Linked DNA regions of Homo sapiens. The protein of the gene in region 3 purifies or fractionates together with the protein of the main gene of each other region. This does not show direct contact. Each region holds a gene or a part of one and is shown on either strand. Other genes may lie near its edges.

What was found.
Region 1: the proteins of KIAA0408 (region 3) and DDX49 purify together in Homo sapiens (affinity purification with mass spectrometry; one large-scale study listed by BioGRID and IntAct). This does not show direct contact.
Region 2: the proteins of KIAA0408 (region 3) and MAP1A purify together in Homo sapiens (affinity purification with mass spectrometry; one large-scale study listed by BioGRID and IntAct). This does not show direct contact.
Region 4: the proteins of KIAA0408 (region 3) and RBM6 purify together in Homo sapiens (affinity purification with mass spectrometry; one large-scale study listed by BioGRID and IntAct). This does not show direct contact.
Region 5: the proteins of KIAA0408 (region 3) and NOL6 purify together in Homo sapiens (affinity purification with mass spectrometry; one large-scale study listed by BioGRID and IntAct). This does not show direct contact.
Region 6: the proteins of KIAA0408 (region 3) and PACSIN2 purify together in Homo sapiens (affinity purification with mass spectrometry; one large-scale study listed by BioGRID and IntAct). This does not show direct contact.
Region 7: the proteins of KIAA0408 (region 3) and LPP purify together in Homo sapiens (affinity purification with mass spectrometry; one large-scale study listed by BioGRID and IntAct). This does not show direct contact.

What each region holds. Positions count from the first base shown.
Region 1 is NC_000019.10:18,922,715-18,925,922, reverse strand, and holds part of DDX49 (probable ATP-dependent RNA helicase DDX49), read right to left. Parts: coding exon 3,179-3,208; intron 1,691-3,178; coding exon 1,615-1,690; intron 1,301-1,614; coding exon 1,224-1,300; intron 1,042-1,223; coding exon 944-1,041; intron 1-943. UniProt on the Homo sapiens protein: ATP-dependent RNA helicase that plays a role in various aspects of RNA metabolism including the regulation of mRNA export and the levels of pre-ribosomal RNA. Regulates the stability and synthesis of pre-ribosomal RNA and thereby regulates cell proliferation.
Region 2 is NC_000015.10:43,529,860-43,532,111, forward strand, and holds the end of MAP1A (microtubule-associated protein 1A), read left to right. Parts: coding exon 1-11; intron 12-209; coding exon 210-365; 3' UTR 366-1,752; downstream 1,753-2,252. UniProt on the Homo sapiens protein: Structural protein involved in the filamentous cross-bridging between microtubules and other skeletal elements.
Region 3 is NC_000006.12:127,449,390-127,452,889, reverse strand, and holds part of KIAA0408 (uncharacterized protein KIAA0408), read left to right. Parts: intron 1-1,572; exon of another isoform or gene 1,573-1,608; intron 1,609-2,537; coding exon 2,538-2,900; intron 2,901-2,988; coding exon 2,989-3,068; intron 3,069-3,500.
Region 4 is NC_000003.12:50,058,650-50,062,149, forward strand, and holds part of RBM6 (RNA-binding protein 6), read left to right. Parts: intron 1-999; coding exon 1,000-1,097; intron 1,098-2,151; coding exon of another isoform or gene 2,152-2,233; exon of another isoform or gene 2,234-2,306; coding exon 2,307-2,349; exon of another isoform or gene 2,350-2,350; intron 2,351-2,490; coding exon 2,491-2,572; intron 2,573-2,812; coding exon 2,813-2,898; intron 2,899-3,312; coding exon 3,313-3,459; intron 3,460-3,500. UniProt on the Homo sapiens protein: Specifically binds poly(G) RNA homopolymers in vitro.
Region 5 is NC_000009.12:33,467,425-33,470,924, reverse strand, and holds part of NOL6 (nucleolar protein 6), read left to right. Parts: intron 1-733; coding exon 734-913; intron 914-1,257; coding exon 1,258-1,426; intron 1,427-1,583; coding exon 1,584-1,718; intron 1,719-1,803; coding exon 1,804-1,967; intron 1,968-2,052; coding exon 2,053-2,173; intron 2,174-2,358; coding exon 2,359-2,417; intron 2,418-2,502; coding exon 2,503-2,604; intron 2,605-2,779; coding exon 2,780-2,895; intron 2,896-2,989; exon of another isoform or gene 2,990-3,056; coding exon 3,057-3,234; intron 3,235-3,408; coding exon 3,409-3,500. UniProt on the Homo sapiens protein: Part of the small subunit (SSU) processome, first precursor of the small eukaryotic ribosomal subunit.
Region 6 is NC_000022.11:42,875,650-42,879,149, reverse strand, and holds part of PACSIN2 (protein kinase C and casein kinase substrate in neurons protein 2), read left to right. Parts: coding exon 1-102; intron 103-2,139; coding exon 2,140-2,262; intron 2,263-2,816; coding exon 2,817-3,013; intron 3,014-3,500.
Region 7 is NC_000003.12:188,157,157-188,160,656, forward strand, and holds part of LPP (lipoma-preferred partner), read left to right. Parts: intron 1-3,500. UniProt on the Homo sapiens protein: May play a structural role at sites of cell adhesion in maintaining cell shape and motility. In addition to these structural functions, it may also be implicated in signaling events and activation of gene transcription.

The DNA.
Region 1 (3,208 bases), on a different chromosome or scaffold from region 3:
AAGGTCCGTGACCCTCATGGCAGCCCCACGAGGACGTCACCATTCTCATTATCCACCATGTGAGGTCTAGGGAGTGGAAGTGACCTGCCCAGCACCACAGGGTCAGGATAGAAGGTCCAGGCCCAGTCCGACCCCAGCAACCACATCTTTCCTGGCTTCAGAACTGACAGCATCTCATGGACACCATGCCCCTCCCTGACGAGGCAGCAGCAAGTAGTGGGGGCCGGAGCTGTGTGTGCACCCTCCCAGGGGGCAGCCCCACACTGCTCAGTTCATCACCTGGCTTGGGTGAAGGCAGCACCTGACTTGCATTTGCTTTATTTTACAATTTTATTTTATTTACTTATTTTAGTTTATTATTATTTTTTGAGACAGAGTCTTACACTGTTGCTCAGGCTGGAGTGCAATTGTGCGATCTCCACTCATTGCAACCTCCGCTTCCCGGGTTCAAGCAATTCTCCTGCCTCAGCCTCCCGAGTAGCTGGGATTACAGGCACCCTCCACCACGCCTGGCTAATTTTTTTGTATTTTTAGTAAGACAGTGTTTCACTATGTTGGCCAGGCTGGTCTCGAACTCCTGACCTCGTGATCCACCCACCTCGGCCTCCCAAAGTGCTAAGATTACAGGCGTGAGCCACCGCACCTGGCCTATTTTATTTTATTTTTTTGGAGACAGAGTTTTGCTCTTTTTGCCCAGGCTGGGGTGCAATAGTGCATTCTCAGCTTGCCGCAACCTCCCGGGTTCAAGTGATCTTCTTGCCTCAGCCTCCCGAGTAGCTGGGATTCACCTTTGCTTTAGAAAGGACAACTCCCCAACTTGCAAACATGGCCCTGAGTAGCTCTCATCTGTGGGCTGCACCCTACCCACGTCCTACCACCTGAATTTGCTGGGCAGGCTGGAGGGACAGAGGCCCAAGGCTCGGCCTCCCCCTCCACTGCTCACCTGCACGGGCCGTCCGGCCGACTCGGTGGATGTAGATCTTGGGGAGCCCGGGGGTGTTGTGGTTGATGACCACCTGTACCGTAGGGATGTCCAGGCCCCTGGAGGCAGAGGTGGCTGGTCAGCTCCACTGTCCATGTGGGGAAACCGAGGCAAGGACTCACCCAGGGTCACTCAGCAGGGATGCTAGGGCTGCCTGACATGCCTGAGGCCAGCCTTCTCATCTGTGGGGCCTTGTAGTAAAAGAGGGAGTGCCCTTGGCAGGAGACTGGGGGCTGCTCACCGGGAGGCCACGTCTGTTGCGATCAGGATCCGGTAGATGCTGGACTTGAACTTGGCTAGGGCGGCAAAGCGTTCTTTCTGCACAGGGTTGGGAAGAAAATTGGGAATGCATGAAGGCAGGGTTTTCTGTGTGAGGCCTCGGGACAGGGTGGAGGCCGGGACAGTCCCCAGCCGTCCATTGAGGAAGGTGGCCATGAGAAGTCAGACCGGGACAAATGAATGACGGCTAAAAGAGATGCGGTCAGGGAGGGCCTCTTGAGCTGCGATATTCTGGGACCAGAAGAGACCAGGTGGCAGGAAGAAGGCGCCCGGCAGAAGGAAGGATCGGGGCCAATGTCTGAGGCGGGGAAGGTATCCCAGGGTGAGGCTGGCGGGCCCCAGGGTGGCCTCACCTGCTTCATCATGGAGTGCAGAGCCACGGTGGGGAAGCTGAATTTGCGCAGCATCATGCACAGAATCTGGCAGGTCCTGGCGGGAAGGATGTGCCTGTCAACCCCTCCAGCTCTCAGGTTCTGGGAAGGTGTTCCTGCCCCCACCCGCCCCTGAGACACCTAGCACAGTGGCCTCATGCAGCTTAGAAAGGAGAGGCAGCAGGCCAGGCACGGTGGCTCATGCCTGTAATCCCAGCACTTTGGGAGACTGAGGCGGGTGGATCACTTGAGGCCAGGAGTTCAAGACCAGCCTGCCCAACATGGCAAAACCCCATCTGTACTAAAAACACAAAAATTAGCCGGGCATGATGGTGTATGACTGTAGCCTCAGCTACTCAGGAGGCTGAGGCAGGAGAATTGTTTGAACCCAGGAGACAGAGGTTGCAGTGAGCCGAGATTGCGCCATTGCACTCCAGCCTGGGGGACAGCGTGAGACTCTCAAAAAAAAAAAAAAAAAAAAGAGGCAGGATGAGGGTTGACAGACGGCTTGCCTGCCTGATGTCCTCTCTGCTGATCCCTCCCTGGAGCTGGAACTGACAAGAGTTGGCCCTGGGACTGCAGGGCTGGAAGGCTGGAAACTGACTTGCTAGGGGTGGTCACTGTTACCAAGAAGGCCAAGAAGGAGCCAGCAGAGGAAAACAGAGGAGAAAGAGGGGCACAGGGAGAAAGGATGGGGACCATCACATAAGCTGCTGGATCCTGCCACGCCTGACAGCCACCCTGCAGCCAAACTTTTCTCTCTTTTTCCCTGAGACAGTCTCACTTTGTCCCCCAGGATGGAGTGCAGTGGCGTGATCTCGGCTCACTGTAACCTCCACCTACCGGGTTCAAGTGATTCTCCCGCCTCACCTTCCCCAGTAGCTGGGACTACAGGTGCTCGCCACCATGCCTGGCTAATTTTTGTATTTTTAGTCGAGATGAAGTTTCACCACGTTGGGCAGGCTGGTCTCGAACTCCTGACCTCAGGTGATCCGCCTACCTCGGCCTCCCAAAGTGCTGGGATTACAGGTGTGAGTCACTGCACCCAGTCCCAACTTTTCTCTTCTGGGAGGTAACGCATTTAAAGCGCCTTGATTTCTGCCCTTCTATCCTGGCTCATGCTGGAAGAGCCTCCAGCTTCTCAATGACCTTCCCAAACAATTCAATGAAGATATGAACTGCCCTCCCCAGGGGTCTCTGTCTGTGCAGACGCACACCAGGCCTGTTAGTTGTCACAACTTCCTCTGAGATGGGACTAAAGGCCCAGGAAAGCTCAGTGACACCCCCAGAACACAGCAAATGGGCTGCTCAAACAGCTGCTTGCAGGGGTTTCCTGGCCCTTCCATCAACGGCTGGGCTGAGGAACCCCAAAGGCCGGCTGCACCTTCAGATTGAGGGACCTTGGCTCCTTGAGGGAAGCCCCCATGACCTCCAGGCTGAGCAGAGGCTGGGGAGTGCTGAGACTGGCTGTGTGTCCCAGACCAAAGACGTCGGGCCACCTCCTCCTTTGAAGGGCGGTGGGAGGGGAGAGGCGGGCCCCGCTCACTTGCACGTGTTGGTGAAGATGATAATGGAC
Region 2 (2,252 bases), on a different chromosome or scaffold from region 3:
AGAATCTTCAGGTGAGTAGCAAAGGACACCAAGGAAGTAGTCTGGTCAACGCTCACTCAGAGGCAGTAGTGGAACACAGTCCCTATTTATTAAAGGATGGGCCTTTTCTAAGGGCAGCAGAGCTGCTTCTGAGACCATGAGGTGCCCCTTCCCCCTCACCTACCTTCCCTTTATGTTCTCACATCAGACATATCTTATCTCCCTTCTAGGTGACTCTGATCCCTACTCATGACACGGAGGTGACTCGTGAGTGGTACCAACAAACTCATGAGCAGCAGCAACAACTGAATGTCCTGGTCCTGGCTAGCAGCAGCACCGTGGTGATGCAGGATGAGTCCTTCCCTGCCTGCAAGATTGAGTTCTGAAAGAGCCGCCCTCCCTTCCCCAAGGATCCACTCCCCCAGCTCCTTTAGAGAATGGCTACTGCTGAGTCCTTTGGGGTTGAGGGAGATGGGAGCTAGGGGGAGGGGAGGGAGATGTCTTGTTGTGGGGACTTGGGCTGGGCTAAATGGGAGGGGTTGTCCCTCCCCATCATCCATTCCTGTGAGGTGTCTCAAACCAAAGTTAACAGGGAGAGGATGGGGGAGGGGACAAATTAGAATAGGATAGCATCTGATGCCTGAGAACCCTCTCCTAGCACTGTCAAATGCTGGTATTGAATGGGGACTGAGGATGGGTCTCAGAGAGCAACCTCCTCCCTCGTAGAGGGAGATTATATCCCCAACTCCAGGGACCTCTTTATCTCAATCTATTTATTTGGCATCCTGGGAGGGATTTCCAATAGTAATTTATGTGACCTGGGGCAGGATACCGTCAGTGAGGTGCCCAGAGCTGCACCCTTTCCTCCATTTCCCATCCCCCATCTCCTCAACCACCAGGGTCTGAGTTCTAGCAGGGTCCTGGGGGTATCCCACTGCTATACTGTTCTACTGCTTCCCTCAGTATCTGAATGTCTCAATTTAAAACTTGAAGCTCTTTAGACCAATAGACTGGTGAGAGGAGAAAGGAGCTTATCCCCCAGACCCTGCTTTATACCATTCACATCCCAGGGCTGTGTCCAGACAGCACAAAACGGCAAGGAGAGCCCAAGCCCCAATGCCAGAATTCTTCCAAACTCCCTGACTCTTTGAAGTTTTTACTCACCCCATTTCAATTATCCTGATCCCTTCTCATCCCCTGCTTGGCTTCTCTGCATGTGGTCATCTGCTGTGGCTTGGTGTTTAATGGGTTAAAAATAAGCCACTGCCTGACATCCCAACATTTGACACCCCAGCAATGTGTGACTCCCCCAACATTCCACTATGCCATCCTGCAGCTGAAATGGGAACACTGGCTGCCTCTCCAAACCCGCTCTTGGACAGAGGATCTGGGAGGTGGAAGCCAGGCCAGAGGACTTGGGGAAAATGAGATGGAGGAAGGAAAAAGGGAGAAGCTGAGCCACAGCTTAACTCCTACAGAGTGAAATGAAAACGGGCTGAAAATACCACCCCAGGAGAGGACCTCGCCCCAAGCAAGCCAGTGAGCAGCCCTGCCAGACTACTGCCAGACTGAGAAACCCAGAAGCTGGTAGTCATGTGGGCTTGCCTTCTCTGCCAAACGACTGGGAAACCAAAATGAGCCCACCTTGTGTTCTTCCTAGCTCCACCCTCCCCGTGCTGCTGTGTTCTGCTCCTCCCCACGCTTCCCTGCTATAGTTCCCAGCTGCTGTAACGGAGCCACCTCCAACTCTAACAATAAACCAAGTTCATTGCAGATAGTGTAGTGCTGCTTAGGCTTTTTCTGACTCCATACATGCTTAGTTACTGGGCCCTGGCTTCTACCTCTCTGCTTCAACCAGTATTGAATTTATCTTGGAAGACTCCAATGCTTTTGATTACTGGAAACACTTGTGCCTGAGTATGAAGAATAGGAGCCTAGGGTGGATACATACATCTGGTCTGGGGGAGGGAAGAGGGGCAGAAGGCCTCCTGGGAAGGGGATATGCATTCCGTGGGGTCAAGAGTTGAGGACCAAATAACCAGGATCAGCTACCCTGGACAGCCTCTTGGGCTAAAGGGGTAAAAAGCTGAAGGACCCTAAGAGATCCAGAGCCTAATGAGGTTGGAAACAACTCTCCTTGTGCAGTCAGGATTTCCATGGAGTAAAACGGTCGACTTTCCTCCTCCATGGAAACCCTTTATAGTCCTAAGTATGTCAGAAGTGGCCAGGTTATGAATGTGTATATTTGGGGAGGGGCATATTCTAGCCCTCCC
Region 3 (3,500 bases):
ATGTGGTGTATGATTAGGGATTAAAGGAGAATATATACTTCTTGTCCCTCTATAGTTTAGAAAATGTGTCCTGCTTGCTCCTTTAACCCCTCTACCCATACTCGGATTGGATCAACAAAGAGATTCCCTGGTCAAATCAGAATCCAAAACTCCAGCGCAATCAGAAACTGACCTGTAGTCCTAGGTCATTGCCTTCCAAATGTTTGGGAAGTTCAGTTCATAACAGTCTCAGACAATTCTAGCATCCAAGCAAAATAACTAAGGGATGCAGGATTAGTCTAGCCAATTTTTTAAAGCCATGTAGTTAAAAGAAGCTGCTGTCTGATTAAATTTATTACTGTCCAATAATTATTCTGACAATTCTATAGAGTTCATCTATGGTAAATATTAGCTTTATCAATTAGCAGGCATGAAATATGCTTTAAACATCAAATTATACCTCATAGAGATAACATCCCTTTCTGTATCAGAGAGACAAACGGGCTGTCATATTTTTTTATCTTGGAGAGTAGCTGTACTGCTGTTTATGTTTTGCTGCCTGTGCTATACAGCTCCATAACTAAACTAAAATTAAGAAATCAACACTTGGAAAAATAATCTCATGCCACAAGCATAAAAGATTGTATTTGTTTAACATTTATCACAAAGTTCTGTATGTTAAATCAGATGTAAATTATTAAGCCATGTACTAGAGAACTGTAGATTCCCAGGTATGCACATATATCTTCAGTGACTTTAAGTGATAATATCTAATGAGAGGATGCAGTGTTGGCTATTAAGATGCTCGTAGTTCCCTGTTCAGCCACTATCCACAGTCATTGCATTTGCTATGGCAAAACCAAGATGTTCATACTTGGATCATTTGAAATTTGAAATAATCCAGATAGAAATTCTGGATAGAACTTATAGACGTCTGGGGTTTTGTTTTGTTTTTTTCCACACTGTAGTCTCCTGCCTGTATCCTTTGGTAGAATAATCAGATAACCATTGACAAGGGCTGAGTACCAAGTAACATAGTACCTTTGTACAAAATAGTTTTCCATCAATAACATTGTTATTTGTTGATTCATACCTCACCTAAATCAAGAAAATTTAAGATGGCATAAAATTAGGTATGATATAAAATATGCAAAAACAAAAATGGAAAGATGAGCTGAAGACAGGAGGAAGGATCATATATGAAATGTACCAGTGAGTCTTTCTAGTAACTAACAAAAATTATCAGGTGCATATACCTTCAAATTCAAATGATAAGGCAAACTTATTTCCCAGGAATAGCACATTTTTCCCGGTTTTGCAACTAAAGCAATTTTGTTTTCACTCATGACTTCGCAAAAACAGGACAGTGTCACCAAGAGCATCCTTAGATTTAACATGTCACTTTTTAGGGTTCCTTCTTATATCCCTCAAGGTCAGCTCAAACCATAATGCCCGCAGAAGTTCAGTACAAATAATTTGGCAGGGACCAAACAATCAATTCATGGCTGCAGTTTGATGCTATCCTGACTTCATACAATAAATACTAATACATTTGTAAGCATTAGAAAAATAAATACACTGTATATTTTTCAGGCATCAACTCTAGTGCTTCTCTCAACTGAGTTATCGGTATGTATTAAGCAGCAATAAATCTATTATATTACTTGAATAATACATGTAGTGTAGATATTGATTGCGGCTGTTAAACATAGAGTCATTTGCTTTGATAGTCATCTGACAGTCTCTTTTGAAGTTTGACAAGCTTTTACATGACCCAAGCCTAAAGAGAAAGCCATTTCTTTCCTCTATTCAGAAGTGAACTGAATGAGTGTGTGCAGGTTCAACTAAGATCTCATAAAGAAGTAATCTGGATTCTACCTTAATACAGACTAATAGATGATCAAAGCCTTGCAGTTCTATTATATCACGTAGGGTATTGTCATATTTGTTTTAATCTGGATGAGAAATATTTTAAAAATGTGTATCACTTTGAGATTTTTTAAAAATCTCAGTAATATCTAGCCCTCACAATGTAATTGACCAACCAAAGGAAACATCTTTTGACTGACAAGTGACTGTTTAGGGAACAAGAATAAGTTGACTTACTATCTGAGATTGTCAAGCATTTAGACAGTTAAATGTTAGTGTACAAGTAGGACCAGACATTTGAAAACTATGACTTTAATGTTAAATTCTTGCATCTCTCTGAAAGCAATTATATAATATGGCCAGTAATTGATTCAGGTCATTCTAATTTTGTGACAGTGTTTCTGTATTTATATACAGATACAGATTTATTTTATTTTTGAATGATTGATTGCTAGTCAAAAGAATTAGCATCCATGTGTTGCCCTACTAAAAGTAGCCTTTATGTTTCATCAAACTTGTTCCAGCTAATCCATATTTTAGAGGCACTATTTGGAGGCCGAAGCATTAATACCCAGGAAGTATATTTTAATATGGCAAAGAGAACTCAAAGCGGTTTGCTTAGTATCAAGAATATTAGCAAAGTGAATTAGGGGAAAAGAAGTTTTAATTTTGTTTTGTTTTTCTTACAGCTTTGCCGGGAAGTAAAGCTTTGGAGGAAAATCAATATCAATGAAAGTGCTAAGATCATTGATCTTTACCATGAGAAGACCATTCCAGAGAAAGTGATAGAATCTTCCCCAAATTACCCCGATTTAGGACAAAGTGAATTTATAAGGACGAATCACAAAGATGGTCTGAGAAAAGAAAATAAAAGAGAGCAGAGCTTAGTCAGTGGAGGAAATCAAATGTGTAAGGAACAAAAAGCAACAAAAAAATCAAAAGTAGGGTTTTTGGATCCTTTGGCTACAGACAACCAAAAGGAATGTGAGGCCTGGCCTGACCTGAGGACTTCTGAGGAAGACAGCAAGAGCTGTTCTGGCGCCCTCAGTACAGTAAGTAAGATGTGATTGGCCTAGAACTGTTTCTAAAGAAATATTTACATTTCAAAGTGCTAACGGGCTGTTGCTTATATGTGTAAAGGCTCTTGAAGAACTTGCGAAGGTGAGTGAAGAATTATGCAGCTTTCAAGAGGAAATTCGAAAGCGGTCTAACCATAGAAGGTAGGCTGGTACATCTGATTATTTTAGATGGGTAAATAAAAAATAATATTGTTTTTAGTTAATGACTCCAAACTGCCTCCTCCTTACATGTAAGAACTAATGAGTTATTAAAATGTACTATCTAGGGTGGGAGATAGAAACTTTAATTTTTTGTTTGCTCGTTTGTTTTTGAGATGTTATCTTGCTCTGTCTCCAAGGCTGGAAAGCAGTGGCATGATCTTGGCTCACTGCAGCCTCTGCCTCCCAGGTTCAAGCGATTCTCCTACCTCAGTCTCCCAAGTAGCTGGGACTACAGGCACACACCACCACGCCCAGCTAGTTTTTTTGTATTTTTAGTAGAGACGGGATTTCACCATGTTGGCCAGCATGGTCTCGAACTCCTGACCTCAAATAATCCCCCTGCCTCAGCCTCCCAAAGTGCTGGGATTACAG
Region 4 (3,500 bases), on a different chromosome or scaffold from region 3:
TACGCCTGTAATCCCAGCACTTTGGGAGGCCGAGGTGGGTGGATCACGAGGTCAGGAAATCAAGACCATCCTGGCTAACACGGTGAAACCCTGTCTCTACTAAAAAATACAGAAAAATTAGCTGGGCGTGGTGGCAGGCGCCTGTAGTCGCAGCTACTCGGGAGGCTGAGGCAGGAGAATGGCGTGAACTCCGGAGGCGGAGCTTGCAGTGAGCCGAGATCGCGCCACTGCACTTCAGCCTGGGTGACAGAGCGAGACTCTGTCTCAAAAAAAAAAAAAAAAAATTTGAGGGACTTCTTGATCATTTGAATTCTTGTGTGCTACCTGATATCATAATCCCTCTTGCTCTCTCCTTTGGGTTTATTGTTCATTCAGGTCAGGTGACAGCCCTCAAAAGTTAGGATCCCGTCTGGTTTTCTAGGTTCATTTTTTTCTTGTGTCATTTACTGTTTCCAACTTACTCGCTTGTGAAGAATCTGAGTACTGAATCCTTCATGATTTTAGTGAACTTTCTGATTTATTTTGTCCAGCCACAGATGGTTTTATATTTGATGATAAAACATTTCCTCTTTTTCCTCAAAGTATTTATAGATTCCTGTGGCTTAAATTTTTAGTTGCGGGGCCTTTTTCTATGGAAGTAAGGTGAAGATAATGAAAGTCATTGGTATTTCTTAGATTTTTCATGCTCAAAAGTCACAAGGGACTTTGTAAACTGAATCTGATTGATGATAATTGCAACCTAAAAGAAGAGGATTTGAATTTCTGAAGTTTATGCCAGAACTGACATCTATTCTGATTCCTGTTCCAATCAGTCCTTCATTAAAAGTTGCCTGTTTCTGCCAGTATGCTCTTACTGTTAAAATTTTGACAGAATATAATGTAGTAAATTTATCCTCTGAGAAGGAAAATCCACGTTCACTTCTCTTTCAAAGGAGAATTTTTCTGTCTTTGGGTTCTGGCATTTTCTGTCTCTGGGTTCAAGTGTGTCTGGTTCTATAGGAAGCTCTTCGTGTGGTGAAGATCTTACAGAACCTTGATCCGCCATTTAGCATTGATGGGAAGATGGTAGCTGTAAACCTGGCCACTGGAAAACGAAGGTAAGGCAGAAGGGTGAGGATCTCTTGTGCTGCCCCCACTTGTGTTTTTGAGAGGAAACTCCTTTTCCTGGCTGGAAAAACAGTAAAGCATGATGTTTTCCTAACATGGACTGCTTCAGATAGGTGTTTATTACAGTTTCTTTCTGAAGCCTGACTTGTCCTGACTCTCGAATTGTTTTCTTTCTTGAATAATACTAGGTACTTTTGTCCTTTCCCTTTTGACTGTCTGGTATCTTTGGGTCCCAAATGGCCTGGCGTGGTAGCACATATCTCTATTCCAAGCTACTAAAGAGGCTGAGGCGAGATGGGGAGCGGGTTACATGAGCCCAGGAGTTCTAGGCCATAGTGTGCAATGAAGATGCCTGTGAATAACCACTGTACTCTACCCTGGGCAACACAGCAAGACCCTATCTCTTAACAAAAAAATGATGGTACAGTTTTGGATGTGCAGACACATGTCAATACATTCTTGCCCCTTGCAATCCTAGGAAAATGCTGTCCTGGCTTTTCCTTCCCCTGACCTTGTGCATATTTCCATAGCACTGGGAAATCTAATTTCTCTTTCCTCCTTCACTCATCTTGACCCAGGAGTGGTAACTTGGAAATGGCCATGTCAGAGAAACAGGCTTACCAATATGGGGCATATCTTGCTCTAGCACCCTCCACTTAATGGCTGTTTTGCTCCACCACTTGGCTTTGTAAGAGTCTTACTGCTCATTGGGCAGGCGTGGTGGCTCACGCCTGTAATCTCAGCACCTGGGGAGGCCGAGGCGGGCAGATCATGAGGTCAGGAGATTGAGATCATCCTGGCTAACACGGTAAAACCCCGTCTCTACTAAAAATACAAAAAAAAAAAAATTAGCTGGGCGTGGTGGTGGGCACCTGTAGTCCCAGCTACTTGGGAGGCTGAGGCAGGAGAATGGTGTGAACCCAGGAGGCGGAGCTTGCAGTGAGCTGAGATCACGCCACCGCACTCCAGCCTGGGCGACAGAGCAAGACTCCGTCTCAAAAAAAAAAAAAAAAAAAAAAAGAGTCTTACTGCTCATTCTTTCAGGAGTGTCTGGACCACCCAACCTGCTTGCTGTCTAGGTTGGTTCCTTTCCCTGCAAAATGAGGAACAGAGGATTTCTCGATAGGAACTGTAGGATTAAGTACTCGTCAAATGCCACTTGGTAGCAGCCTTAAGAATTGTTGTGTTATCTGTTGCAGAAATGATTCTGGGGACCATTCTGACCACATGCATTACTATCAGGTAGGCTGTAACAGGTGGGGAGTGCTCTATTAAAATCCTCAGGTGACTATAAGGGTGATCTTGAATTTTCTTTAGTGGGTGACTGTTAAGGTGAATGACCATTGGATAGTTCTGTAATTTTAACTTGCCTTTCTGTGATAGGGTAAAAAATATTTCCGAGATAGGAGGGGAGGTGGCAGAAATTCAGACTGGTCTTCAGATACAAATCGACAAGGACAACAGTGTAAGTAACCTTTGTTTTATTTCTGTTGCTCTTTTTTGCTTGACTTGCTACTCATTACTTGACATCTGTGTGATCACAGTTGGCAAGATACACTGTTGACTGAGGGTGCTCATCCAGAGAGAGGCATCTGTAGATGCACCTATTTGTGTTGGTCACCCTAATTCTTGGGTTCTTGATGAGTCTCCAGTAAGGGCTTCATTGGACAGAGACTAACATTGGCTCTGATCTTGTTACCTTTAGCATCATCTGACTGCTACATATATGATTCTGCTACTGGCTACTATTATGACCCCTTGGCAGGAACTTATTATGACCCCAATACCCAGGTGAGTTTGGGGCTTTTTTTTTTTTTTTTTTTTTTTTACCTCTGTCAATGATTCTTTTGAGAAAAGCACCCATAATTTGCTACTTGAGGATTTTATTCCCTGGATTCTCTGGATGCTCATTGCATGAAAAGTGGAAAAGTTTAGATCTATGGAAACAGAACTGTTGCCTATATGGAAAATCAGTGCCTTGTGGCAATACAGGTAAGAACAGTGTTGCTCTTGAAAAAGTGGACAGTGGGTGGTCTGAATGTGTCCTGGTCCCTGGAGTGGGTTTTTAGATTGATGTGGACTCTTCTTAGACTTGTAAGTAAAAAAGTTGTTTCTTCCCCTAAAAGGGAACTGTGCGCCTTAGACCTGGAATTGCTGGGAAACTGAAACATTCTGTAGACTTACTTGTTTCCAACTGTATCGCAGCAAGAAGTCTATGTGCCCCAGGATCCTGGATTACCTGAGGAAGAAGAGATCAAGGAAAAAAAACCCACCAGTCAAGGAAAGTCAAGTAGCAAGAAGGAAATGTCTAAAAGAGATGGCAAGGAGAAAAAAGACAGAGGAGTGACGAGGGTAAGAGGAATTGTTAATTTGCTGTCTTTTGCCACATAGTT
Region 5 (3,500 bases), on a different chromosome or scaffold from region 3:
AAAAGTAGAATCGAGAGGGACAATGATGAGATTAGAGAGACCAGTTAGGAACTAGTCTAGGCACTGAGAAATGGTGGCTCCTCAAACTAGGGAGGAAAGTAGTGAAGTGATCCATTTCTTTCTTTTTTTTTTTTTTTTTTAAATCTTTTCCTCTCTCTGTTTTAAAAAAGTTTTCTTTTTAGAGAAGTGATCCATTTCTGAATACATTTTGGTAGTAAAATGGGTATTCTTTTTTTTTTTGAGACAGAGTCTTGCTCTGTTCCCCAGGCTGTAGTGCAGTGGTGCGATCTCGGCTCACTGCATGCTCCGCCTTCCGGGTTCACGCCATTCTTCTGCCTCAGCCTCCCCAGCAGCTGGGACTACAGGCGCACGCCGCCATGCCCGGCTAATTATTTTTGTAGAGACGGGGTTTCACCGTGTTAGCCAGGATGGTCTCGATCTTCTGACCTCGTGATCCGCCCACCTCGGCCTCCCAAAGTGCTGGGATTACAGGCGTGAGCCACCACGCCCGGCTCGTAAAATGGGTATTCTTAACAGAGCTAAGTTAAGGTGATTTAAGTGGTTTTGGCTTGAGCAACTCATATGGAGTTGTCTTAGCAAGGAAGACATAGTTATGGGAAGATTGGGAGTTTGGTTTCAAACATATCGATGTGTTAAAATGTCTTCTAGACATAAAGGGTACATGTGAGGAAGGCAGTTGAATCAGTATGTGTCCCTGTCTCTGCCCCCACAGCTCACTGACCAGGCATGGCTCCCAGCTGGGGTTCGAGTGCCCCTCCACCAAGTGCCCTATGCCGTGAAGGGCTGTTTCCGCTTCCTGCCCCCAGCCCAGGTTACTGTTGTGGGCAGCTACCTTCTGGGCACCTGCATCCGACCAGACATCAATGTGGATGTGGCACTGACCATGCCCAGGGTAAGGTCCAGGGTTTAGGGGATAGAGGCCCACCACCTGACTACCTACAAATCCTGGATCCCTCTTTCTTATCTGCCGCTTGCCAGGGGATTGAAGTCAGAATTCTAAATCAGAAGAGCAGACCATTGCAGGCATCCTGAAGGCAGCTTAGATCCCTCGGGCCAGTTGCTGTCCTTTTGGAGCTTTGCTCTCCAGATATGAGAACTGGGCCTAGTGTTGCTAACCGTGGCTCAGGCACTTCTGTCAGCAGAGGAGCCCTGGCTCTCTCACCTTGGTTTCACCTTGGCCCACAGCTCCACAAGCACTTATGTGCCTGGCCTTCTCTTCTCCCCTGGCCCCTCCAGGAAATCCTACAGGACAAGGACGGGCTGAACCAGCGCTACTTCCGCAAGCGTGCCCTCTACCTGGCCCACTTGGCTCACCACCTGGCCCAGGACCCCCTCTTTGGCAGTGTTTGCTTCTCCTACACAAATGGCTGCCACCTGAAACCCTCACTGTTGCTGCGGCCGCGTGGTGAGAGGCACACATTGGGCTGAGGGCATAGCATGGGATGGTAAATCTGGAGGAGAAGGCACAGAGGCACGGAGGCCTCAAGTATGGGGGGACAGGATGGGGAGCCCTCTGGCTCCAAGGGCTCCTGCAGAGTCTCAGCACTCACTGTCTCTGGCAGGAAAGGATGAGCGCCTGGTCACTGTACGTCTGCATCCGTGCCCTCCACCTGACTTCTTCCGCCCGTGCCGCTTGCTGCCAACCAAGAACAATGTGCGCTCTGCCTGGTACCGAGGGCAGAGTCCTGCAGGGGATGGTGAGCAGGCCCTGGTGTTGAGGTGGAGCTGGAGGGAAGAGGTGTGGGGACTTTTCCTCTCATGGCTTCCCTTTTCATCCCACAGGTAGCCCAGAGCCTCCTACCCCCCGCTATAACACATGGGTCCTGCAAGATACAGTTCTCGAGTCCCATTTGCAGCTGCTGTCAACCATTCTGAGTTCAGCCCAGGGCCTGAAGGATGGCGTGGCACTTCTGAAGGTCTGGCTGCGGCAGCGGGAGCTGGACAAGGTGAGTTGGGGGTGGCGCAGCCTCCCTACCTGAGCGCCTGTGTGATGGGCAGGCTCTGACCTCAGCCTCTCCCTGTCTCTTTCAGGGCCAGGGTGGGTTTACTGGGTTCCTTGTCTCCATGCTGGTTGTCTTCCTTGTGTCTACACGCAAGATCCATACCACCATGAGTGGCTACCAGGTCCTGAGAAGTGTCTTGCAGTTTCTGGGTGAGGCAACTAGGTGGGGAAAGGCCAGGGGCTCCACTCCTCCTGGGAATCCTCTCATCCCAGTAGCAGTCTTTTGGTGTTTTGCCATCAGACAGATGAGCAAACTGAATCGGCTGAGGGAGGGTGTCATTAGGGCTGGGTCCCCAGAAGGGGATACCTTCTAATACACTTGTGATTCACTTCAGCCACTACAGACCTGACAGTCAACGGGATCAGTTTATGTCTCAGCTCAGATCCCTCTTTGGTGAGTTGGGGAAGGGCCAGGTCTATGCCAGGAGGCCTGCAAGTAAGGTGCCAATCCTGACCTGCTTCTCTCTACACCCCCCAAGCCGGCCCTGGCTGACTTCCACCAGGCCTTCTCCGTTGTCTTCCTGGATTCCTCAGGCCATCTCAACCTCTGTGCTGATGTCACTGCCTCTACTTACCACCAGGTACCAATGGGCCCCCAATCTGTGTTCCCCTGATGTCTCAGCCCAGACTCTGTCCCTTTTGCAAGTACCAGAACCCCAGAAACTCCTCTTCAAAGAGTTAAGTTTAGGGCATGTCTCCTGGTCTAAGCCCTTGGATCAATGAAGGGCACAGGGATGGTCCCTTCTGTGGCTCCAGGTACAGCATGAGGCACGGCTGTCTATGATGTTGCTGGACAGCAGAGCTGACGACGGGTTCCACCTGCTGTTGATGACTCCCAAACCCATGATCCGGGCTTTTGACCATGTCCTGCAGTGAGTTTAGGGGTGACAGGGTATGTTGGCGGGTCCTGTCTCTTCGGGGCTACAGTGGTGGGGCAAAGGTCTTCAGACAGGTGCTCAGATCATTCAGGGAGGAGGTGGTACTAGGGGCCAGCAACCTGATTACCCCTCTTTGGCCCTTTGTACCCCTCCAGTCTCCGTCCACTGAGTCGCCTGCAGGCAGCGTGCCACCGGCTGAAGCTCTGGCCAGAGCTGCAGGACAATGGTGGGGACTATGTCTCAGCTGCTTTGGGCCCCCTGACCACCCTCCTGGAGCAGGGCCTGGGGGCTCGGCTGAACCTGCTGGCTCACTCTCGACCCCCAGTCCCAGAGGTGAGGTGGTGTAGGTTGGGGAGTTTGGGTCTGAGTTGGGCTGGATCCAGGGTCCCAAGAGACACAAAGGACACACCATTCCTCCAGCTAGGCGTTTCTAGCTAGCTAGAAAGTAGGTTTCTAGGCCAGGCTGGAGGATTGGAGGACTGAGCTCAGCCTTTTGAAATCCTGCAGTGGGACATCAGCCAAGATCCACCAAAGCACAAAGACTCTGGGACCCTGACCCTGGGACTCCTTCTCCGGCCTGAGGGACTGACCAGCGTCCT
Region 6 (3,500 bases), on a different chromosome or scaffold from region 3:
TCGAACCCTCAGCCGGAGAGAGAAGAAGAAGGCCACTGACGGCGTCACCCTGACGGGCATCAACCAGACAGGCGACCAGTCTCTGCCGAGTAAGCCCAGCAGGTGAGTGGGCGCCACCTCCATCCAAAAGAGGCCGTTCCATGGTGGGGGCCCTGGGCAATCTGCATGGTCCAGGGCAGCCCCGGCCTGGACACCTGGGAGGTTCCTGGGCTCCTGAGCTCTGTGGGCCGTGGCCCAGCCTGGACACCTGGGAGGTTCCTGGGCTCCTGAGCTCTGTGGGCCGTGGCCCAGGGGCATCTCCAGGGAAGGTCGTCTTCCTGCCTGGTGCCAGAGCTGCTGACAGATCCAGAGAGGGAGGCTTGGCCCTGAGCTTCAGACCTGAGTGGGGAGGAGCTGATGACAGGGCTGGCATTCATGTCCCCAGGGATAGCACCGCCCTGCCCGGACACTGGTGGAGGTGCCACCCTGGTTCCCTCAGGCAGCTGAGGTCCTGCCGAGGTTCATGCTCACTCTGTATTGTGTGCAGGCGCCAGTCGAGGGAGGGACAGGAGAGGACTGCCAGGCATCTCCTTTCCAAATTACCTCTTCACTAGGAGCATTGGTTATTTCTGACTTAGTCATTGGCTGAAAATGAGAGATATAAGGGTGGCACTGTGGTCATTAGAACCTTCTGGAAAGTGTGTGCTAGAGGAGGTCTTCCTATAGGACCTGCCCACAGGCCTCCATGTGACACTCAGTAATAGTCATTTCATACGGGGGCTTCCTAAGAAGGCTTAGCCCAGGTTCCCTTGGCCTTCCTGCAGCCCCAGGCACTGAAGCCCCCACCCAGGCTCCCCAGCAGGTGTGGCTGTCGTCATTCCGCTGCTTTGCACGCTGTCTGGGCAGGTGGGCTCGGCAGTAAGTGCCTGTCCCAGGGATCAGGCCAGCACCTGTATGCTTGGGGGTGGGAATGGGAAAGAAGAAACACTGCCTCAGAGGAGACCCTGGGGGCCCTGGGCTGGCCAGGGTTGCTGCACAATCCAGCCGCCCCCACCAGTGCCGTCTCACAACAGTCTGCTAGAGAAAGGTGCCAAGGAGGGAGGAGGGCCGGTGAGCTCAGACATGTGGCCTGGATATTGGCCTCCAGCAGGCCTAGGTCAAGTACCACTTGCCAGGCTGAAGTGGATGAGGCAGTTACTGGCCACTCAGGATCACCCTGGTGGCATTGGAGGCATGTCCTCGCCTCCCTTCCTTGGTTCTGGGGTGGTGGGTGCTCAGGCTGAGCAGTCCATCCAGTGCTTTGGGGGCCTGTGCCCTGAGGCCCTGGTCTTGGAAGTAGAAGGTGCTGCTGGCCAGGGTAGCCCGGTCCTAGGATCAGTTACTTGGTGGGGTGCCAGGGCCCTTGGTGCCTGTCTGATTGGATTGCTTGATGGTCTGCCTGTGGTCTTCGTAGTGTGTAACTCAGCTCCCGGCTCCCAGCCCTCAGGCAGAGCTTGGCCCAGATCTCTCTGGTTCCCACACTGGGCCTGGCAAACAGTAGGCAGTTGCACGACTGGATTTTCCCTCTGGAGCACCAAAGGAATCTTCTTTCTATCTAGAAAAGACGGTGCCGCAGGCCCTGGCCCTGATTTTGGAGGCTTCAGCTCCACAGAGCAGAAGAGCGAGCCCTGAACCCCTTAGTAGTCAGGAGGAGGCCGTGTGGGCTGAAGAGCTCAGAGCCCTCTCCCACTCATCCATGGGAGCCGGCCCCTCCCACACTGTCACTCTCAGAGGAGACCCTGAGGGGCTTTTTGACCCCCCCAGCTCACATTGGTGGGAGTCAGGACAGAGGAGAAGCCCTGAACCTGGAAACGACTTTTGCTCCAGCTGTGGCTTGTCACCCGCCCCTGGGCCACCCCAGGGCCCCTGTTCTGGACGGACTGTCTCCAGGTGCAAGGAAGGAAAAGGGAAACCAAGTCCTCTCCTAGGCTCCTGGACCGTGTTTCACAGCTGAAGTATTGCCCGCATTCTGCCATAGTAACCTTTCTGTTGAAACACCACGGTCCCCTCCGGTCACAGGAGGAGCTGATTTGTCTCTTGAGATCCTGCAGCTAGGAGTTGCCAGGACCCTCACGGGCCCCTGCAGAGCTGGGATCCCCTGAAAGCTCTCTCTCTCCATAGCACCCTTAATGTCCCGAGCAACCCCGCCCAGTCTGCGCAGTCACAGTCCAGCTACAACCCCTTCGAGGATGAGGACGACACGGGCAGCACCGTCAGTGAGAAGGACGACACTAAGGCCAAAAAGTTGGTGAACAAATGCTTCCTCTGCTCCCACCGCGCTCACTCTGTCTCTCTTCCTCTCTCTCTGTCCAGGGGTCTCACCCCTCGGCACTCGGCAATGCACGGAGCTCTGCAGGAAGTGGGCACCTGGCGTGCCGCACCCTGGCCCACTACCTGCTCTCTGGCACAGGCTCTCTGGCACCCCCATTCCTCGGGGAGGGCACAGCTAACAATCTTAAGTTGCTTTTTCTCTGTCCTCTGTTAACCCTTCAAGGCCCTAGCAGCACCATGACAGGAAAACAGACAACGCGCAGTCTGTGCTGGGGACTAGAGAGTGAGGCCCCAGGTTGGCCTCTGCTGTGGGCATCTCCAGCCGCCTGCCCCTGGAAAGCCTGTTGATGGCTCAGGATGAGTGTGGATGGCATGAACTCACACTAGCACTGGCTCCACCTGTGCTCCTTCGGAAGGAGCCCTCAGCCCTGAGCCCCAAGGCTCCAGTGCCCTCCCCTTGCGGGGCGGGGGCCTCACACCCTCTGCCGCCCTGTGCTGAGGGCCCTGTGGCCTCCCCTTTCTTGCAGTGTGAGCAGCTACGAGAAGACCCAGAGCTATCCCACCGACTGGTCAGACGATGAGTCTAACAACCCCTTCTCCTCCACGGATGCCAATGGGGACTCGAATCCATTCGACGACGACGCCACCTCGGGGACGGAAGTGCGAGTCCGGGCCCTGTATGACTATGAGGGGCAGGAGCATGATGAGCTGAGCTTCAAGGCTGGTAGGTGGGCTCCCCCAGCATCCAGGGGAGGAGGGCTTCCAACCTGCAGGCTGTGGGCGGTCTTTTTTGTTTTTTAAGTCTGGAAAAGTTCTTGCTAGTTTCACTTGTGAGTCACTGCAGGCCCTTCCCCAGTGCCCTGGCTTCATTGTCAAAAGCAGCCAATTGGCTGGATGTGGTGGCTCATGCCTATAGTCCCAGAGCTTTGGGAGGCCGAGGTGGAAGGATCGCTTGAGCCCAGGAGTATGAGACCAACCTGGGCAAAATGGCAAAACCTGTCTCTACAAAAAATACAAAAAATTAGGCCAGGCATGGTGGCTCACGCCTGTAATCCCAGCACCTTTGGGAGGCCAAGGCAGGCAGATCACTTGAGGTCAGGAGTTCGAGCCCAGCCTAACCAACATGGTGAAACCCTGTCTCTACTAAAAATACAAAAATGAGCCAGGCGTGTGGCGGGGCATCTATAATCACAGTTACTCAGGAGGCTGCG
Region 7 (3,500 bases), on a different chromosome or scaffold from region 3:
TATGAATGTACAGTGCTTTGCACTTTATAAAACACTTTCCAATCAGATACTCCATTTGAATCTCAAAGGTCCCCTGAGAATGAGGCCTGCTGCTGCTGTCACCTTTATTTTAACCCTTGCCCAAGGTCATATAGCTAATTAGGGATGTGTTCAAAATTACAACCCAGAACTTTTGCTTCTTGGTGGTGACGTGTGACTTTACCCTGCTGTTGAGCCAGTCTGGGTTAATTGGGAATGGGGCAAGAGTTAGATCGGATTTGATTTCAGAACTATGCTGAAGATGCTGGATGATGGGGATTTTGTACACGGGTAGAGTGTAACTCATAAGAACTGTGTAGCCCCCTTAGCACAGATATTTGCTGCATTAAGCAGAAAAAAGACAGGGAGATAGAAAATGGCAGGTAGCAGGTAAAACCCGGGGTTGGAGCCTGCTTACGGTGAACCAGAAACTGGCTTGGCCCTGAGCGTACAAAGATGAGGTGTACATGGTCCCTGCCTTTGAGGAGCACACAAGTGTGTGGTGTGTGTGAGGGGGAGGGAAAAAGGTGGAGTGGGGCATGTCCGTGTATTAAGTGCTTTTACAGGGTAAGTTTTGGCTGCTCTTCACTGAGAAGGCTCACCCTCAGGGAAACCACTATAGAGAGGGGGGTGTCTGAGCTGAACCTCTAGGAATGAGTAGGAGTTGTCCAGGTGGAAGAAGGACAGGTGAGAGAAGGACCTATTAGCAAGATAGTAGCAGATGCAGAAGCAGGGAGAAGCTGCTTTATTCTCCAGGCTGTGTTTTGAAAGGCCAGCCATGAAGAGGACCATGGAAAATGGAGAAAGAAGAGGGCCTTTACTTTTTAATAAGTAAGGTTTAAATTAATCTCGATAGGGGCCGTTAAGTGGTTCTGTAGAGATTCACAGGAGAATAAGGCTGGGTAGGGTCTCTAGCGTCATCTCTGTGGGAGTAGTTATTTGGATGGTAATGCAGGAGGCATAGTACCACTTTTAGTCTGAGTGAACCTGGGACTTTGACCCTGGGCCGCGATTAGAGGATCCAAGCTGAGTATGTTCATTGGTGGGTGGGACTTTTCCTGGAATCTGGCTTTGGAGGGCTGTGCTTTGCTAGAAGAAACTTAGTAGAGTGAGGAAGGGGAAGATATAATCATGTTGATGCATGCAGGAAGCTAGTATCTGGGTGAAAATCTGTTGGCTTGAGGGAACATATGAGGCGGAGAACCTGAGGGCAAGGGGAAGGGTGGAAGGATTTCAAGTGTGTTGTGGAAGTCTGCTGTAGGCTGCCTGGAGGCTTGGAGAAAAAGGCTGGTGCATTCTAAATGTTGGTCACATCAGTGAGATTGGTAGGTGGATAGGTAGCTGTAGGTAGTGTAGGGATTAATGTTTGGAAGCAGGTAAACCACAGAGTTGAGGCTGGAAAATGTTTCCTTTCCTATCATTCTTTTTTAATAGTAATATAATTTTGAAATATTTTCAAATGCTTACCACCTGTTATGTAATTATCATATTGATTCATTAAAGTAGGTTTTTTGATTACCAGTCTCATTTTGCAGATGAGAAAATGAATTTGGTGAAATAAGGTTACACAACTACCAGGAGGCATTCAAACTTCTGCCTCATTCTTATAGCCTCTTCACCACTCTTTTCTATGCCCACATGCATGAAAAGCTCAAATCGACATTGCTTGTCTGTGTTCTTCCCTGGAATTTAATTCAGCCCACATTCGTGGGGCCCTAGTGGGGTCACAATTGAGGATTCACATGGACAAACGGGCTTCTCAGTCCCACACTGGTGCTGTTCTAGCCCCTTTTTCTCTCTTAAGATGCTACCTTGGGTGTCGTCTCTCCCCAAACCTAACTGGAAAGGACTAAGCCTCTCTAGCAAATCATCTGCCTCTTTCAACAGAGCTCGCTTCCCCAGTCCCTTGTTGTGTTAAGAATGTGATTTATTCTTGTAGAGAGGCAGTTAGGGTCATAAAGTAACAGAGTGGGGAAGTGACAGTCTTGAACTCAGTCATTACCTTTGATCTCACGGCTCCGGTAACGGTGCTATATGTTCTCTGGTGCTGAACCATATAGCTTCTGCGTCCTCTAGGAAAGCTTTCTGGCTCAGGGCTCTGAGGGAACACCTACAATCCTTCCTATCACCTACCTGAGTCAGATGGGTCATCTACATTTTGGCCACTCACAGATAAAAGCATTAATAATCTGTTTATTGTGTTGTGAGAGGAGACAGACCCCAGGATGTTCAGTAGCTGTTTGGTGAATGAACAATGTTTATGGACACAAATAAGCATGCATCACCACTTCATCTTACATATTTGTGTGTCTGCCTCCTCTCCACTTTAAAATAAGCTGCTTGAGGATTGCAGTGATGTCTGCTTGTTGATGGCTGTATTCCCAATGCCCAGAAGAATGCCTGACACATGGTAGGCACTCCAGAAATACTTGCTTGATGAAGAGAGGGAGTAAAATAGTTCACTGCAGCCACAGGATAGCAATCATGGGGGAGCGGGACTGTTTTTACTGCCCCAGAACCTTGAGCCAGTTGTTGCTGGCACAGGTGGCATTGGGCAGTCCTGCCAGCAGAGTGAAGATTGAGGGACTGGGAGTGTAGAGCTGAGGGTTGTGAGATTAACTATGCCAAGGTTAATTGCAGTTGCAACTGCTCTTTCACTTTTCCCTCACACAGACAGGTGGTCTGGAACAGTCCTCTGTTTTCTTCTCTTTTGAGACAGAGTATTTTTTTGTTTGTTTGTTTGGTTTGTTTGTTTTGAGACACAGTCACACTTTGTCACACAAGCTGGAGTGCAGTGGCGCAATCTTGGCTCACTGCAACCTCCACCCCCTGGGTTCAAGTGATTCTCCTGCCTCAGCCTCCCAAGTAGCTGGGATTACAGGTGCCCGCCACCACTCCCGGCTAATTTTTGTATTTTTAATAGAGACGGAGTTTCACCATGTTGGCCAGGCGGTCTTGAACTCCTGACCTCGTGATCCACCTGCCTTGGTCTCCCAAAGTGCTGGGATTACAGGCGTGAGCCACCACGCTCAGCCTTGAGATGGAGTTTTACTCTTGTTGCCCAGGCTGTAGTGCAATGGCCCGATCTCGGCTCACTGCAACCTCCGCCTCCCAGGTTCCAGCGATTCTCCTACCTCAGCCTCCCAAGTAGCTGGGATTACAGGTGCCTGCTGGCACGCCTGGCTAATTTTTGTATTTTTGTGGAGATGGGGTTTCACCATGTTGGCCAGGCTGGTCTTGAACTCCTGACCTCAGGTGATCCGCTGGCCTTGGCCTCCCAAAGTGCTGGGATTACAGGAGTGAACCACTGTGCCCAGCCCTCTGTTTTCTTAATCCATGCCTTTTCTTATGCTGTTTTCTCTACCTGGAGTTTCCAGCCTTTCTGTCTCTGCCTGTTGTAAACCTGTGATTCTAGGATCAATATCAAAATCTACCTTGTGCCATGAAGCAATTTCCAGACTCCTTAACCCTTCCAACCCACA